3 linked regions of the Homo sapiens genome follow. The protein of the gene in region 2 interacts with the protein of the main gene of each other region in a pairwise test. Each region holds a gene or a part of one and is shown on either strand. Other genes may lie near its edges.

The links.
Region 1: the proteins of AEN (region 2) and SYT6 interact in binary tests that used the Homo sapiens proteins (3 or more experiments, as listed by UniProt).
Region 3: the proteins of AEN (region 2) and AAMP interact in binary tests that used the Homo sapiens proteins (3 or more experiments, as listed by UniProt).

The regions. Positions count from the first base shown.
Region 1 is NC_000001.11:114,150,862-114,157,787, forward strand, and holds the start of SYT6 (synaptotagmin-6), read right to left. Parts: upstream 3,009-6,926; 5' UTR 2,912-3,008; coding exon 2,749-2,911; intron 2,062-2,748; exon of another isoform or gene 1,905-2,061; intron 1,580-1,904; exon of another isoform or gene 1,357-1,579; intron 1-1,356.
Region 2 is NC_000015.10:88,617,130-88,624,339, reverse strand, and holds the start of AEN (apoptosis-enhancing nuclease), read right to left. Parts: upstream 3,001-7,210; 5' UTR 2,958-3,000; exon of another isoform or gene 2,677-2,957; intron 1-2,676. UniProt on the Homo sapiens protein: Exonuclease with activity against single- and double-stranded DNA and RNA. Mediates p53-induced apoptosis.
Region 3 is NC_000002.12:218,263,621-218,267,163, forward strand, and holds the end of AAMP (angio-associated migratory cell protein), read right to left. Parts: intron 3,367-3,543; coding exon 3,227-3,366; intron 2,968-3,226; coding exon 2,823-2,967; intron 2,528-2,822; coding exon 2,444-2,527; intron 2,327-2,443; coding exon 2,211-2,326; intron 2,063-2,210; coding exon 1,959-2,062; intron 1,842-1,958; coding exon 1,751-1,841; intron 1,555-1,750; coding exon 1,400-1,554; intron 989-1,399; coding exon 913-988; 3' UTR 509-912; downstream 1-508. Other genes in the region: GPBAR1 (G-protein coupled bile acid receptor 1), read left to right, coding at 1-97. UniProt on the Homo sapiens protein: Plays a role in angiogenesis and cell migration. In smooth muscle cell migration, may act through the RhoA pathway.

The DNA of each region.
Region 1 (6,926 bases), on a different chromosome or scaffold from region 2:
TTCCTGTGCAATTCCTAGCACAGACTCTAGCCTATAGAGGAGTCTCAGCAAATGACAGTGGAGTCTGAATCTCAGTCTCAGGGTGTTACTAGAAATCTGTAAGCTAGAGACTTAGAACAGGAAGAAGTCAAGGGAAAACATAAAATGGTAAACAGAGCTGGGCCTGCTCTAGCCACTTGCATTTTTCATAAAACTGCAACAAATGAAAAGCTCTAGCATTGTGCTGGTTGGAGAATCTGGACCCAGAGAGCAGGCTGGGAGGCGGAACAGCTGGGGCCTGGTCCTGAACTCCATGGCATCTCCCCAGACCCTCTGGTCACCTAAATTCTCAAAATCCCAAGGCCACTCTCAACCACTATCTTTCTCTTGCTATGATCAAAGGGTCTGCTCCTGCCTCCCCATATCCCTTTCAGCCTCTCAGCTTGGACCCTGGGCTTCCTGGGACTTGTGACTCAGCAGCCAAAGTTAAAGTTTTCCTGAGCTAACAACTAGAACTCATCTTCTGATGCAGCCTGCAGGGAAGGCATAGTAATTCATCTGGGCCTGCCGACTCTCACCCCTCAGGCTTTTCTCACCCTCAACCTGGCCATCCAGGCACCTGTCATTCCAGATTATGGGTATCTCTGTGGAGTCAGAACACCTGTGCCTCCCCCTACCAAGATGTGCTGCACACATACAGCCCTGCCCCACTTCCAGCAACTTCCACCGTCACCCCCAGCATTTCTGCCCTGAACAGACAGGAGAGTCAGCTTCCATCCCAGATGGAACTCCACAGGTATGTTCTCACCCTCTAGGCTCTGAGGGTCAGGACCAGCATTAAGGCTCCACTGGAGATGGATCATTGGTGGAAAAGACGGAAGGGAGCTGGGGAGTAGGGAGAGGCAGGAAGAGGCTCCCTGATAGGGAAAATTCTGTGTCTGGTGTGTATGCGTGGTGTAGGAGGGGATGGCACCAGAGAACCAGAGTCTTATAATAATAACTTGTTAGGCCTAATGTGTTCTGCGAATCTCCAAGGCAGGGAATCAACTTCCCCAACCTCCATCTCTGTACCACCCTCTAAAAGTTCTTTATGTCTAACCTCAGTCCCTTCTGCTGCAGTGATCAAACCATTGACTAAACATTGCCACAACTAGGGACAGCAGCGCCTCCTACGACCCTCACAGGGCTCAGGTGGGCTCCGCTCACCCCAAGGCTGGATACAGCCCCCTCACACACACAAGCCTCCCCTTGGCCCACCGCCCCCTCCCCCGAACTGCTCCTCACGGGTATCTACCTCTATATACGACCTTTAACCTCAAGTGAAAGAAAACAGGACCCTGGGACCTGCAGCCGCTGGGGAGTTTACCCCACCTGTACCTGCTCCCAGAACCGCCGGTCCCTGGCTTCTCGTCCCTGGAGCAGCGCGTGGGGACCAAATTCCCGCCTCTGGCAGCCCCTTTCTCCCCTTCCCGCGCCAGCGGTGCAGAGCCACTGAGCAACTCCCGAGTGCTCCTAGGCCCAGCGCTACTGGGGTCGGGGTGGGGGAATAAGGAGGGATGGAGCCTGCAGAGTCTCCTGGAACCCCGGCGTCCTGGTCCTTGCAGGATCTCCCCACCCCCACTCCGCATTATCTCCAGGCCTCTCACTCCCCCAGCCCCTCCCCCATGGAGGGGACGCGACCCAGTACTCCCTCCCGCCCCGGACCCTCCAGATATCGGGACAAAGAAGCCCCGCGGCAGCCGGCGAGCGTGGCTGCCGGGCACTGGTGCAGCAGGTAAATACCCTGGGCCGGCCGCCACGTCGCCGACCCTCCCGCAGCTCCCGCCGCCAGGGCGCGACACGCCATTCCCCCTGCCGCGACTCCCCGGAGACGCCGCAGCTGCGCGCCAGGGTCCAGCCCGGCGGGGATCGGGCTCGGGACTCACCCGCTCCGGCGAGCTCGACTCAGCTCGGGCTCCCGCCTCGGCTAGGCAGCCGCCTGGGGCTGCGTCCCGCGCAGGGTCAGCGCGGATCGGGCAGGAGGCGCCCTCTTGGCAAAGTCGGCTAGAGGCGCCAGCTCAGTCGCGCACCGGCCCCGAGTCCGAGTCCGAGAGGGACGGAGGGAGCGAGTTATAGGGGCGAGAGGGGGTGGGGGAAGGACGCCGCAACACCCTCATACCCTCCCCCACCCCGCCCCCTGTCCCCCGCCCCCCAGCGGAGACGCGGAAAACCACTCGCAGCCGGAGAGACACCCGGACACAAAGACCTCGTGCCAGCCGCAGACCCAAGTTTCTCCCGGAGAGACTGGGGGTCCGCCCGCGTTCACCGCGAGAACACACAAACGGACGGACAGACCGACGCACGGACCCGGGGACCTCGACACTCGCTAGGAGGCAAGCCCTATTCCTCAGCCGGGCGCCCCTCGTCTCCCGCTCTCTCCATGGACCCCTCTCCTGGCAAATCGCCCGCAGAGCGAGCTTGGAGATGCGAGGGAAACTGAAGCCCCAAGGGTGCCCCGTCCTGGGAGCCTGGCTGTCTGCGGGGTCCCCCGCATTCCGCAGTAGTAATACAGGAGGGCCGGGGGCTTCTACCCCAACCTCCGCTCCCCTTCGGGTCTCTCCTGGCTGTGCAAGCGATGGGCCAGAGGGCTGGACGAGGCTGGCTCCCAATCCAGAATCCCGAGCTGGGGAGTTCTCTCTAGGTTCTGGGGCTCCTGGGACCGGGGCTTTGGGGAAGGGAGATCGCAGGACGGATATCCAGGAAGGGAGGGGGCCCTGGGTCTCCCGTTACCTGCGCCTGCCGCGCTGGGACTCCGCTCTGGGGGCTGCAGCTCGAAGCTCCGACAAGTCTCCACGTCCAGCCCGAGAGGGGGCGGCCGGGCCCGGCACAGCGAGGCGAGGACCGCGAGCGCCTCCTGGCACCGAGGCCCGCCGGCCCCCCACACTCCGCTCATGCCCTAGACACCCAGGCTTGCCGAGCAGCAGCTCGAACCCGCGCCCCGGCCGCACTGGGGCGGGGCACGACGGCCCCAAGAAGACCCTCCCTGCAGCGGCCCCCTGCGGCTCCGCTCTGCTTTTAATCACTTCCCCGCAGGGTCCCCGCCCCTCACGTGGCATCCCGCGGCAGCTGGCGAGTCTGGCGCCTCGCGGCCGCCCCCTCTACACTCAGGGACTGGCCTGAGTCCGGGGGGTGGGGGTTTCGAGGCGGGAAGCCGGGCTGTCCCGAATCTCGGAGGGTGCAAGGCCAGGAAAGAGTCCGGGTTCCCACTCCGCATTCACTGCCTGGTGTGACCTTGGGCGTCTCTGAGCCTCAATTTTCCTCTCCGTAAAGGAGGTGTAATGATTTTAAGTACTTCACGGACTCCCTGGGGATAGAAAGATCGTGTTTGTGAAAACACTGGGTAAACTGCCACATGCCACACGAATGACAGAGAAATAGATAACCCCGTAACAGAAAGAGCGACGGTCAGGCAGGGTCTGGGAGGACCTTGGCCGAGGTTCCTGACGGGAGCAGTTAGACTGGCCCCCGAGTCCCAGCTTCGGAGGTAGAAGACCCCAAGACAGGCGGGCGATGCGAACTGCAAGACTTTCCGAGCTCCGCAATCCTGCGGTCCGCGGTACCCGCATGTTGCTATGGCGACGGGAGGCAGCGGCCGTCTCTCTCCATGGCAACGGGAGGGAAAAGTTTCTGGCAAACAGGAATGGGGGGTCATTTCAAGAGGGCGCAGGGCGCTCAGTTCCGCCGACCCACCTCCTTGCTTCGGTGAAACAGCACCAGAGATCATGTATCTTTCTGCTAAGCATAACAAGAAAGACAGAAAGCTCAACGGGAGGATTGAGGCTAGACTTAAAGTAGAGATCCCCTCAGAAACTGTGGAGTGAGGCCCAGGAACAGATCGGCTGAGAGGCTTCGAGCTGCCTCACTCAGCGCTGGAAGTCTGTGAGCCATGGTCAGGGAGGCCGGGGGACCAGCGCCCTGCAGGGGCCTATCTCGGGAGTCTCTTGATCTACACCTGTCGGCGGTGGGGCCCCTTCTGTGTGGGGCTCGCCTGAAGCCCCAGACTCAGGTCCATTTGCTCTCCCGGAGCTGGGAAGGAAGCTTTAGCTGCAGCCCCTGGAGGCTGCTGGGTTGGTGTATGCCCGAGTGGCTGGCGAGGGAGAAAGGTCTTGCCTCTTAATTAACACGCTTATTGGAAGTGACTCGGGCAGTGACTCACGTTCCGGAGGGAGGAGATTCGGAGCCTTAGCTCCTGGCGGTCTCCACTGCGCGCCATCTGTGCCAACCGGCCCTTGGACTTGCGATCCCCTAGCAGCTGGTGCCTGGGGCACCAAGGGCTAAGGCAAGGCCTGTGAGGACCCTGGCCCAGCCAGGCGGCTTTTCCACCGTGAGGCGCCCCCTGGCTCTGTCCACGGTGCTGAAGACCCAGTTGGTGCTACCATCGCGTGGGCATAAGTTTAGGGGACGAGGGAGAGGCAATTGTTGAAGGTTCGCAGCTTCCACCCTGACCCCTGTGCCTGTGATAGCAGAAGGCTAGGAACTCAGGCAGGGACCAAGCAGACACGACGCAGGCGATACTGTGCAATCCGGGCTGCCTTCCTGCTGGAGGTGTTTGGTTGCTGTTCCAAGAACAAGTGGGGCTCTGGCATCCCTATGCGCCTTCCTGGTGCTTCTGAAAACCCACCTGAGGAGCCTAGAGGCCCCATTAATTTCTTTTCCATCACCCGATGCAGATCTCAGCACCCAGAAGAGCCTCTGGCTAAACGCTTATTAGCAGTTTCCCAAGTGGCAGGTTTGTGTTTATGTAAAATACAAATGGAGAACTGCTCTTTGCCCGTGTTTATGGCAACTCTGTCACTCCCCTGCTATTTCTCCCTCCCCCTCGCGAGTTCCTGGGGGAAATTCACAGAACAAAGCACCTTGTTTTGCCTTTGCAGAGAATGAAAAAACACAGGACCATTCCAAGGGCCCAGACCTGTGATGCAGGGAAATCAATATTTTGCTTACATCGAGTGGGGGAATTTGCATCTAAACTGAAGGCAAAGGAGCTTGTTTGGAGCAGAGCAGGTGGCAGGAGCCGAGAATTAACAGATAATTTCTCATTGTTCCTGGATTCAGCCTCCACACTCGGCAGGCGCTTCTGCAGCGTCTCTGGCGCCCCGGCAGCAGCTCCGGACCTGGCATTTCTCAATCTAGCAGTGTGAAGGAGCTGCTGCCCTGATAGGGCTGCAGAAACAGGTTAGGGCCCCTGGGTCAGTCAATAGCTATTGAAGTTGGATTGTAGGAGTTAGCGTGTGTGGGAGAGACAGAGATGAGAGAGACAGAGAGAAAGAAACAGAGACAGAAATAGAGGCAAGAGACAGATACAAATGAGAGAGACAGAGGATGAGACAGAGATACAGAGAGACAGTTATAGGAAATAGAGAACAGAGAAACAGACAGGGAGACAGATGTACAGGTAAAGAAACACACATTCAGAAGGAGACATTAAGGTAAAGCCTCACCCTAGTTGTCCTCTTTAGCCCGCTACCTCCCCCAGCCCCCAGGTCAATTGCTGATACCACTGTGGTCACATAACCAGCCACAAAGCAGAAAAATTCTTCATGTAATGATGGAAACTTTTTTGTCTCTCAAACCCCTTTGCCCTGCAAACCCAACCCCCAAACACACCTTTGCTTCTTCCCATATGAAGAGATAAAATTCAGAGTCCCAGGGTCCCACCAAGAGCTGGGAGGGAGGATCCAGGGTCCCACTCAAACCCAGAGAGGGAAAGAGGTGGAAAGAAGTGGAATTGTTGCCCTTCAATTCTATCTCTCAGAGAAATCCCATTCTGAGTTTGGGTTTAGGGGTGGGGAGGAGAGAAGCAGGAGCAGAGACAGTTAAGCATGGAGTGGTGGCAAATAAGTACATTGGACAGGGCCTGGGAGGGCTGGGATTCAGGGCTGGTGCACCAAAGCAGCCACGAGGCTGTCACATCCCCTATCTGGGGCTCAGTGTGCCTATGTGAAGTTGGATTAGGAGCTCTTTGAGGCTCCTTCCAGCAACAGCACTCTAGGATTTTACATGAGGGAGAAAAGAGGAGGCTGGGGCAAAGGGAGGAGGGAGGCAGCCTTTCCTGGCTCTGAAGCTGAGGGTGGTTTTACAGAGGCCAACTCACTTTCAGCTCCCCCTCCCCCATCGTTCTCATTGCGCCTACAGCCATGCATGGAGCATCCCGAGTCTGGGCACCTCCAGACCAGACTTCTCAGATGCAGGAAGAGGAGCTGGGGTGGAATGGGAGGCAGAATGAGAGGAGGTTTGAGACAGAAACAAGAGGCCTCCCACTCCTATGCCCTCCTCTCTTCGGAAATAGCCAATGTGCTCATCTCCTGCCCCCAACTTAAGTCTCTGCCCTTGGGCAGGCTCCCACTCTGCTCTGAGCAGCAATGTCTTGTTGAGTTATGTTGCAAATAAAATAAATTAAAACCAAATAATAATTTCTTTAAAAAAATTGAACCTTGGTAGGAAATTGCTAATGCTGTAGGCGGGAAGAATGAGCTCCTTTGACATGAGCCGATGTGTCATATTGTCTTTCCATCTCAATGCAATTTCTAAATAGGGAGCCCTTTCCCCATTCCCTCCTCCCTCCAAGTCCCCAGCAGAAATGTAAAGGGAGCAGTCTGACGATTGTAGCTGGATTGTCTGACGTGCAGGGAGAGACACAGAGGAATAGACACACAAGCACACCTACAGCTTTGCCACGTGGATAGAAGCTAAGGAGGCTCTGACCCAACCCTGAGGGCCCCTGGTCTCTTCTCCCCACCTCCCCCATCCTCTGCTTACTGAGGCATGTAGCCGCCTTCTGCAGAAGTGTTAATTTACTCAAAAAAACAAACATCAGTTGAACCTAGTCTACTGCAGAATCAAGTTGAGGTCCTGTATTTGAGGGTATAACTTCATATCATTATTTGGAATAAACTGTACTATGGATT
Region 2 (7,210 bases):
CCCTTCCCACTCACAGCCCTCCTGCTCTTTCAGACTCAGCTACTGTTCCGCCACCACCCAGAAGCCCTTCTGGAAGAAACTCTGTCCCACTGGGTTGCACAGGCCAATGCCATACTGAGGCTCTCTCGGGTCTCCACTGTGCCAGATGCTGGGCGGCTGCACAGGTGGATCCTGGACTCCAAGAAGTTTAGTTTCATGGTGGAGACAGAAACCAAGCATAAAGTGTGTTAAGGGCTGAAGCAGAGGTGCTAGGGAGGCAAAACAGGCTGGAGGACAATTCTCTGGAGGCTTCCTGGAAGAGGCTACATCTGTGTGCATGTACAACAGTAACCTTCCAGGTAGAAGGGAGAAGAATCAGTGGCCATGTTAGGGGCAAAGGCCTTAAAAAGGACTAACCCAGGGTGGAGGAAGAGGGCCCACCAGCAGCCTCAAGTCACTGGGGTGTAGAGCATAAGGCGGGTCATGCTGGAGGCACTGCTCCTCGCTCCTCTCTCCTTTGCACCATTTCATCTTCTGTTTCCTACTCTGGTGGCCCTTCCACAAGCCACCCCTACCGCAATCTGGTGTCCCCTGAATTGGTCTCTACTGGCCAAGTGAGTGGGGGAGCCCCAGAGGCACCTATGGAGGTCACTGAAATATCCCACAGTAGCCCTGACTCAGGACACTAAGTCTAGCTGGGGAGCAAAGAAATTCATCCCTCTGTGCTGAGCTCTTATAGCACAATTTGAGAATTATTACACCCTTCAAAGTCCATTGGTACACACAGTCTACCTCAGAGCTGTAAGAAGGCAGGTTAGAGCCTTGATTGTACCTTCCCCAACAGCCAGCCTAGAAGCTAGCATGTGGCAGGTCCTCTTCAGAAGGGTGTAGAAAGAGGTCTGGAGAAGATGAAAACCTGAGCAGTAGCAGCAGAGATTAAGAGAAATGGGAAGGGGATGGGAGGTGAGGTGAAATGCCAGGTTTGATGATGCCAGCATTTGCATAAAGAATCCCCACACTCTAGGGCAGGGCACCGCATCCTGACTTGACTCATCCAGACCTGACCCATCCTGACTCATCCACCCTGCTTGCTCATCCCATCCTTTCCAGGAGAAAAGGTCTCTCTTTTAAAAAGGTCTTAACTGTAACCAACTTCCTCATATTGACAGTCACATCTTAGAACTGACAAATTCAGAACCTTAATCTGCCTCAGCCCAGCAATGGGAGAAAAAAGCCTAAGAAGCCCAATGCCCACCCTGCTAATAACTAATTTGGGAAAGGGGGCTGGCGGATAGTCCCCTCCTTTCTCTGTGAGGGGCTGAGGCTAGGAGTAGGGTGGGTGGCTTTCCTGATCCTACTGGCAAGGTTTTAAAGAAGCCAGAAATTAAGTTATCTGAGAAAAGGTCTCTGTAGCCTCCTATTTCAAGAGAGGAAAGTAGTCCTTTTCCAAACACCCTGACCTTGCTTAAGAGAAGAGAGAAAGAGACCTCCCCCTCATATTGTTCTGTATTATTTTATACTCAGTACCTGTTTTAAGAAGAAACAAGGAAGCAAAACCAAAGGCAGGCAGCCCGGCGCCACGCACCAGACCCAAAACCAGACCCAAAACCAGGCCTGGGCCTGCCTGACCTTAGCCTGATAGTTAAAATTAAACCCATGACCTAGCAACCGATGTTATCCATAGATTTCAGACATTGTATAGAAGGACACTGTGAAATCTCTTGTTCTGTTCTGTTCTGTTTCACTCTGACTACCGGTGCATGCAGTCCCTGTCACATACCCCCTAGATTGCTCAATCAATCATGGCCCTTTCTTGTAAAATCTTTAGTGTTGTGAGTCCTTAAAAGGGACAGAAACTGTGCACTCAACAAGCTCGGATTTTGAGATGCTAGTCTGCCGATGCTTCCAGCTGATTAAAAGCCAATTCCTTCACTACCTCTGTGGGGTTTTGTCCGCGGCTCCTCCTGCTACATGCTGACACGTCAAAACCAACAGTCATCAAGGACACACCTCTTTGGGGACCCAAATGTAGCTCAGTGAAGCTGGAGAGAAGTTCCGCTCAGATAAAACAACCCTTTCAACAAGGACAAACACAAGCCTTTCTCTAGCCTGGACCCAGCGCTCTGGGGGTCAGACACCCGGCCTTCAGGCAGGGAGGGGGTCTGGCCTAAAGAAAGGGTCCCAGCTGCAGAGTCAATGGAGCAAAGGCCCCAAAGGAACCAAGAAGTCAGAATCCTCGGTGGCATGAGAGCCACCAACCTGCTGGCTGATCAAGAGGGCAGAGGGCAGTTCTAGACCCTCCTCTGGCACTAAGTAGCTAGATGATCTGGGGCAAGTCACGTCTCTTCACCATCAACCGAGGGCTGTGAATTAGATAAGGGCTTCCCAAATGTAGTTAATTACCATATGACATCTGATGAAAGGCTGATTTTCAGGCCCACTCCCACACCGTCCTAATTGCTATTTTGGGGAAAGGGGCCTGAGAATCTAGATTTTTAAAAAGAGCGCGGACGACCCCTACCCTCAAGCCACAATTCTGATAATCGCCCAAACCTGAAAAAACCTGGCTCGATAAGGTCCCCTGTGCTGCTAAAAAGTCCACGGAACAACGACAACAACTAAAGTCTGCTATCCTGGCACGACCTCCCCGCCGGCTGGCGTTCTCCCAGGCGTGACGCGTGGGAGGCCTGATCTCACCGGGAAGGACTCGGGCGTTGGTCACTTGCTGGCCGCGGCAGCTGGGCCGAGTCCCAACGACCAGCGCCGCCCCCTCTGGCCCTGGACCCCCGAGCAGAGCGAGGGCTGGAGACAGGCGGCGCCCGGCCTGCTTTTCTGCGGGCCGGTAGGGCAGGGTCAGCCCAGTTCAGGCGTCCCCGCCGCAGGCCGGGGCGGAAACAACGCGCGGGGACCTGCGACCCGGGACACGCGGCCTCAGCCCGCCCGACCCCGCCGCCCCGGTGCAGGGTCCTGGATCTCACCTGAAGCCCCGCGTGTCTCTTCCGGTCTGCACGTGGCGTCCGGAAAGCCGGCAGCTCCCACATGCCCGGGCAAGCCCGGCTCCGACTGCCCGCCTATTGGCTCGCTGGACGGCAGCGCCCGCCCAAGACCTCTTCTGATTGGTCGAGCCTGCCTGGCAGCGGGGAGGCGGGCGAGAGCAGAAGGGGAGGGACTCCTGAAGAGGGCGTAACTCGTGCTGCGAGCCGGCCATACTGGCGGGAAATTTTAAAGAGAAGGGAAGGGAGACTGACCTCCTGTCGTCCCTGCCCGGTCCCATCAGTGTTCCCCGGCTCCAATCCACTCCTCTACCTGGGTCGGGATGTGGGCTCCTGTAAGCCTGGTACCACCAAAGGCCGAATGACTTACTGAGTACACCCACATCTGCAGATTGGGAACATCGGCCCTTACCTCCTCGGGTGTTCTGGGATTCAAGGAAATAATATACACAGTAGGCACTAAAGAGAGACTTTGAAAGTCAGGTTTCCTCCGTCAGCGCTGCTTTTTCATTTATTCTTTTGCAACACTTGACTCCTAAGTATTAAGTTCCTACGTGGGCTTGGCAGTGGGATGCACACAATAAACACATAAGCATCCTGAGTTGTTTATCTAACAGCAGGGAAACAGCAAGGTTAACAGAAAATTCAGTGCAACATGAGGCCGGGGCGCGGTGGCTCACGACTGTAATCCCAGCACTTTGGGAGGCCGAGGCAGGTGATCACCTGAAGTCAGGAGTTTGAGACCAGCCTGACCAACATGAAACCCCATCTCTCCAAAAATACAAAAATTAGCCGGGCGTTGACGGGAGCCTGTAATCCCAGCTACTCGGGAGGCTGAGGCAGGAGAATCGCTTGAGCCCAGAAGGCGGAGGTTGCAGTGAGCCGAGATCGCGCCATTGCACTCCATCCAGCCTGGGCACCAAGAGCAAAACTCCGTCTCAAAAAAAAAGAAAGAAAGAAAGAAAGAAAATTCAGTGTAACATGAGTAATAACAAGAACAATAATAAACAGTTCACACGTATTATGTGAGCACGAATGATGTGCCAGGCAAAATACTCAGTTAATTTGTACAATGACCTTACTATTATTTCAGTTTTACAGTTAAGGAAATTGACACTTAAATTAAGGAGAAACACCTAGAATCCAAAGATCCTTACCTAAGCAGTCTGACTTCTCTTAGTTCACATTTTGCAAGCAGAAGTGATTTGGAAACGTACCTGTGATGAGAAATAAGCTAGGAGCTCTTTCTGATGGGAGTACAAATTTGAGGGAAGCAGGACAAGGGATGAGGTCACAAGAGAGATCAATCCTTTTACCCAGGCCCCTGAAGGCTTTGGGGAGGCAGAGGGATTTAAGCCATAGATAGTTTACCAGTGAATCTGCATTTGAAAAAACTTGTTCTGGCTGCAGCATAGAGAGGAATGGATGAGGACTGGAGAAAGGAGTGGGGGAGTGTTTGTGGAAATTTGGAAGATCATGATGTCCAGAGTGGTGTGGAGGATAAAGAGCTCCCCACCTAAGTAGCATTTGAAATGACAGATTCAAATGCTACTTAGGAGGCAGCGTTGATCAGAGAGCAGAGGGGAAGGGGTTATAGGACAGCGGTCTTCAGGCATGGGGACTGTGGGAGGTAAATCTGGGGCAAGGAGAGTTTTTTTTGTTTTGTTTGTTTTTGTTTTTGAGATGGAGTCTCACTCTGTCACCCAGGCTGGAATGCAGTGGCACAATCTCGGCTCACTGCAACATGTGCCTCCCGGGTTCAAGTAATTTTCCTGCCTCAGCCTCAGGAACAGCTGGGATTACAGGCACGTGCCACCATGCCCAGCTAATTTTTGTATTTTTAGTAGAGATGGGGTTTCACCATGTTGGTCAGGCTGGTCTCGAACTCCCGACCTCGTGATCCACCCACCTTGGCCTCTCAAAGTGCTGGGATTACAGGCGTGAGCCACCACACCCAACCAAGGAGAGTTTTAAGAGAGTCAATATCCAGATCCTCTGCTTCCATGGTGCTGGGCCTCAGAATATGCCTGGGGTCTTTGGGGTTCAGCTTCCCTCTCCTCATGTGTAACCAGCTGTCTCCCACTTTTCAAAGGCAATTCACACTGCACCTGTTCTAAATCTTGCTCTGCTGCATTACCTTGGGAAATAAAAGTCTCCAGGAGAAACAATAGGGCAATTCTAAATAATGTATTAATTATTGTTGAGGACGGGGCAAGAAATCCTTCTACAAGTCAGGTGGTTTCTCATTCTTTGCTTTCACCAAGATCCAAGGAGGATCTAATCATGTTGTTAGGTCATTAAAAACATTTTCTTGAGACCAAGGCTGGAGGACTGCTTGAGGCCAGGAGTTTGAGACCAGCATGGGCAACATAGCAAGATCCTGTCTTCACAAAAATAAATAAATGTGGAGGTGTGTGCCTACAGTCCCAACTACTGGGGAGGCTGAAGTGGGAGGATCCCTTGAGTCCAGGAGTTAGAGGTTACAGTGAGCTATGATTGAGCCACTGCACTCCAGCCTGGGTGACAGAGCCAGACAGACCCTGTCTCCAGTAAACAAATAAATGAATAAATAAATAAATACATGAGTATAGATAATTATCAGGAATTTAAAAGAAGTGGGAGAATTGCCAGACTAAAACCCTTCCCATTTCTCTATGGTTTTAATGTAAACAATGTTTATCAGGCTTACAACTATAAAATCAAAACAACAGACTCACCTCTGTCTCATTCTTACAAAAAGTGATACTCATCTCTGGACTCACAAATTTATGGAAAAATAACTGGCTCAATCCATCTCCTTCAAAGATATATTTTCCATGACATTTTAATGAAGATTAATTAACTTGTATGTTTAAAGATTCTCTCATATAATGAAATGCTATGCATGTATTTTAATCATATGTACTACTAATAATTACAACAACATTTCAATCTAGAAGGAAAAAAAATTAACCCTTAGAACCTCATGGTCACAGAAAATTTTTTAGAGTTAACAAGTTCAAATTTATCTGCATAATTGTGTGACAGAAATGTACAATAGGGTGCTTCATAAAATATTACCAAGCATGAAAATATATTATGCTTGGATAAAACTCCGTAGCAGAAGCTGAAGAAGAAAAAAAGAATGTTGCATATTATGTCAAATAAAAAAACAGACCCAGATTTGATAAAGAGAGATTTTATTTAAAAGGATGATTTTGGGGTGGGGTGAGGGTGGTAAGACTCTGTAAACAGGGAGAACACTCAGGCCATAAATCTACAAACTCTCAAGGGGTAGGCAAAAAGGGATTTTCTTTTATAGGAAGGAGTAAACCAGTCTAGAAAGAACCTGGTGTAGGTAAGTGGGATGAACGAGAGTGACAGGGTGGGGCAGTAGATCAGAGATTGCTTTATCCTGAGGCCAGCCTGTTCTCAAGGGGGCTGTTACAGAGGGATTTCATGCTGGTTTAGGCTGAGGGTGGGCCAAAATTCAGAGGCCTTGGGGAAGGACAAAAGCTTAACCAAAGTTTCATTAATGAGCATTTTTTTCCAGCTGATCAATGGGCCAAGCATTTCAGCTAGTCACTTATGAGGCAAATGGGAATTGGGGCTATCTGTATCCGGTCTAGTAACAGGGTATAGTGGGGAATCGCCATAGAGGGGAATCCATGAGTTTTATCTCAGTCATTGCAGTGAGCCATTTCCAGAACCCGAGAGACGGGGTTGAGGTGGGGTTAGGGGGTAAGGGGTTAATCATTGCTGTTCTCTAGGAGCACAGTGCTTAGGTAAAACTCAACATTGTCATAAATAGTTTTTTCATGTACTTTAAAAATGAAGGCCGGGCGCTGTGGCTCACGCCTGTAATTCCAACACTTTGGGAGGCCAAGGCGGGTGAATCACCTGAGGTCTCAAGTTTGAGACCAGCCTGGCCAACATGGTGAAATCCTGTCTCTACTAAAACACAAAAATTACCTAGGTATGGTCGTGGGCACCTATAATCCCAGCTACTCAGGAGGCTGAGGCATGAGAATCTCCTGCACCCCGGAGATAGAGGTTGCAGCGAGCCAAGATTGCACCACTGCCCTCCAGCCTGGGCAACAGTGCAAGACTCTGTCTCAATAAATAAATAAAGAAGCTAGGCAAGGTGGCACATGCCTGTAGTCCCAGCTACTTTGGAGGCTGAGGTGGGAGGATCACTTGAGAAGGGCAGGAGTTTGAGACCACAGTGCACTATGATTGTGTTACCCTCCAGCCTGGGC
Region 3 (3,543 bases), on a different chromosome or scaffold from region 2:
GCAGGGGCTGTGGGGAAGAGCCTCCCGGGACAGTCCCGGCCCCAGCATTGCCTACCACCCAAGCAGCCAAAGCAGTGTCGACCTGGACTTGAACTAAAGGAAGGGCCTCTGCTGACTCCTACCAGAGCATCCGTCCAGCTCAGCCATCCAGCCTGTCTCTACCGGGCCCCACTTCTCTGGATCAGAGACCCTGCCTCTGTTTGACCCCGCACTGACTGAATAAAGCTCCTCTGGCCGTTTATGATTATCTCATTCCATATCTCAGGGCGAGGCAGGAGGAAATGGCTCAACACACCAACAATAGAAAGAACCTACAGACATACGCGTGGATTAAGGCAGAGTCCGACTCCAGGCAGGCAAGAAGTGTCGTGCGCACAGACCACCCCTGGAGATGGGGAGCTGGCACATCTCAACATCCAGCCGATTCTGCGGGACAGCCTTGCCCTGACGGGGCCCTCGCTAGCTCCTCCTAGGGTCCAGCCATCACAAAATCCACACAGACTCTGTCTCTGGGAAGTATATTTTATTTACATTTTTAAAATCTTTAACTAGTATCTCTTCCTCCTTTCCACCCCCAGAGACTTGGGAAGGGAAAGAACGGGAACCTCAAACACCTACTCCCCACATACAAATACACACCCCATGGCTCACACCAGCAAATGAAAGTGAAAGAGAAACAGGTCCACCCCTCCCTCTGAAGGGCCCACCAGGTCTGGACAAGGGTGGGAGGGCCCTGGGCTGGGTCTCTAAAGAGAAGAAAAGGAGAGGGGAGCAAGTCAGTTGAAGAGGCTGGAAAGTCATCCAGGGCCCCACCCTCCTCTTCCCTCTGTGCCCTACTGCCTCTGCTGGCAGACAGGGGCAGGGGTCCCTTCGTCCCCTCAACACCAGACACACAGGCAGGGGCTGCAGCCATTAACGGTCAGGCCTTTGGACACAAAATACTTTCGCTTTGTGGTCTCCTGACGTGGTCACCACCAGGGAGGCATCTCTGTAAACAGAAAGCATGTGATTGCAGAGACTGGGGGACCCAAGCCCACCACCTAGGGGCCCTAGGGTGGGCTCCTCCAGCACACCCTCAGTTCTAGGGCCCTAGTGCCTAGCACTGGGCCGACATCTCTGCAGCCAGCATGGAGGGGATTAGAGGAAGCCCCCAGCACGGGAGAAGCAGAGCTGACTCCGATGGGGAAAATCAGTCTCAGCCTCTCCCTCATGACTGAGACGTGGGGCCCCGGAGGGTCACTGTCAGCCACTGGAATGGGGGCTGGGCTGTGAACCCTCAGGCTTCTCTGCATTCCTGCCTTAGGAATCCCTTCCCACACCCCAAGGATCCTGTGTCCCCTACATACTACTGCCACCTTCCAAATACACAAAGATCCCAGCCCTTGGCCAATTCACTTACTTGCTGAGGGCAAAGTCCAGGATCTCAGCCGTGTGGCCCCGGTAGTCAGTAAGCAGGCGGCCGGTCCGGGCGTCCCAGAGGCGCACGATGCCATCCAGGCTGCAGGTATATACCACGGCAGTGCCTGCCTCCCACAGCAGCTGCACGATGCCCGACTGCCCCGAGGAATGACAGAGGCAGGGCGGAGGTTGGCAGGAGAGCTGAGAGCCATCTGCTCCCAATTCTCAAAGAGGGACAGCCACACACAAGGGCCAGGCAGGAGCCAGATCTGGGGTAGATGCTCCTGGAGGCCTGGGCTTCCCCACCACTATGGACACAGCCCACAGGGACCCCAGCTCCAGCTGCCCATACCTGGTGCTGACACTGATGCCTAAGAGTCTGCGTAGCCAGGTCATAGATGGCCAAGGTCCCATCCAGGTAGCCAACAGCTGCCAGGGGCATCCTGGCCAGAGGAGCGTACCATGAAGACTCATGAGGGCCTGGACTCACACGCCCTGCCGTCCTCCCGGGCCCCCAGCCCAGGCCCCTCCCACAAACCCCTTTCCCCATCCTCACTCACACACTGCAGAAGCCCAAGGACTCCACCGAGTTGGACTCACTCTCCTCCCCTTCTCCCAGGCTGGGCTGGGAGGCCACAGTCTCAGGTCTAAAAACACCCACCACCTGAAAGCCAGAGAGGATCAGAGGAGGACACGGAATCCGGGTGCTTGATGGAGAGAAAGACGGTGGGGAGAGGAGACAGTGAAGACCCAGGAAGGAAGGAGAGGAGTCGGGAAAGCGGAGGCCCCAGCCGGGCTCCAGGTCCACTCACCTTGCCGGTGGTGGCACTGACCAGCTTGGCCTGGCAGTCCACAGAGCCAGTTAGGATCAAGCTGCCATCCTGGTTGGCAGCAACACAGGTGAGTGGGCCCTGGTGACCCTCAGTCCCTAGCATAGAGCAGGGAGGCAGCTCAGGCTTCGTCCTACCTCCCCTCTGAGTCCTGCCCCAGGTTCTCAGCCCCTCCCTACAAAGGCCCAGGCTAACACTTCCCCCACCTCTGATACCTTTCAGTACATGGATAGGGCTTCCCTGCTTCAGGTCCCAAATCCTGATGGTCCCATCTTCATAGCCTACCACAGCTCTCTTCCCTGAAGAGAGGCACAGATGAAGAGAGGGCAGAGGGCACGCTCACATACACTAAGCAAGGGAATGGGGAGAGGGAGAGGAAAGAAGAGTGGAAGGGCCCAGACACTGCCCCAGGAATCACAGGTGAGTTCAGAGCAGGAAGGAGGCGCTGTGAACTTTGGGGCCCAGGAGGTCAGCACTGCAAACAGCAGGCCTCAGATTTTGCCGGCTGTGACCCAGAAGGCTGCTCTGGGAGGTGTATATCCCGGGATTCGGCCTCTGCACCCAGGAAAGGTCACTCAAGGGAGGTGCTCTCACCATCAGGGAGGACTCGGCCACAGGTGGCTGGGCAGTTGGGACCCTGGAAGGTCTTGCAGTCACCATTCGGGACTTTCCACATCCAGGTGTTGCCGTCAGCTGTGCCCGCCAACAGGACAGGTGCCCGAGGATGCCACTCCATCCACTGGACAGGGAGGAAGGGGCAGCAGGGAGGCCCGTCACCCCATCCCACCTAGAAGCCTGCCCCATGAGCTCCACCCAAGGTTTCCTGCCTCTGGGGTTCCGCGGGGACTTTCCAGGTAGCAGGTAGATATTCTTCCTGTGCCTTGGGGCGCATTGGCTCAGAGCTGGCTTGGCGCAATAAAGGCAGAACTGGCCTCCCAAGCTTGCACCCCCAACAACCCAAGGCCCCACAGAGCTGACTCCCGCTCTGATGATCTTACCTCCAGGTCTCCCGCTTCAAAGGACCAGACCTCCTCCTTAGTGTCCACCTGCCACACTTTCAAGAGGCCACTCATGTCCCCTGTGGCCACTAGAGTGGAGTCATGGCTGAAACCAGCACAAGTCACAGAGTCTTTATGGCCTTCAAAGAAAAGTGGGCAGAAAACAGAGGAAAAAAATAGGGTACCTGGTGCTGGGGGCATGTGATTCTGGTATCTGGCCCACTGAAAGGACCAGCTAGGAAAAAAAGAGGGGCGGGACTGAGCAGAACAGGTGCTGGAACTCACCACCACTCTAGGAACCAATACTCCCATGTCTG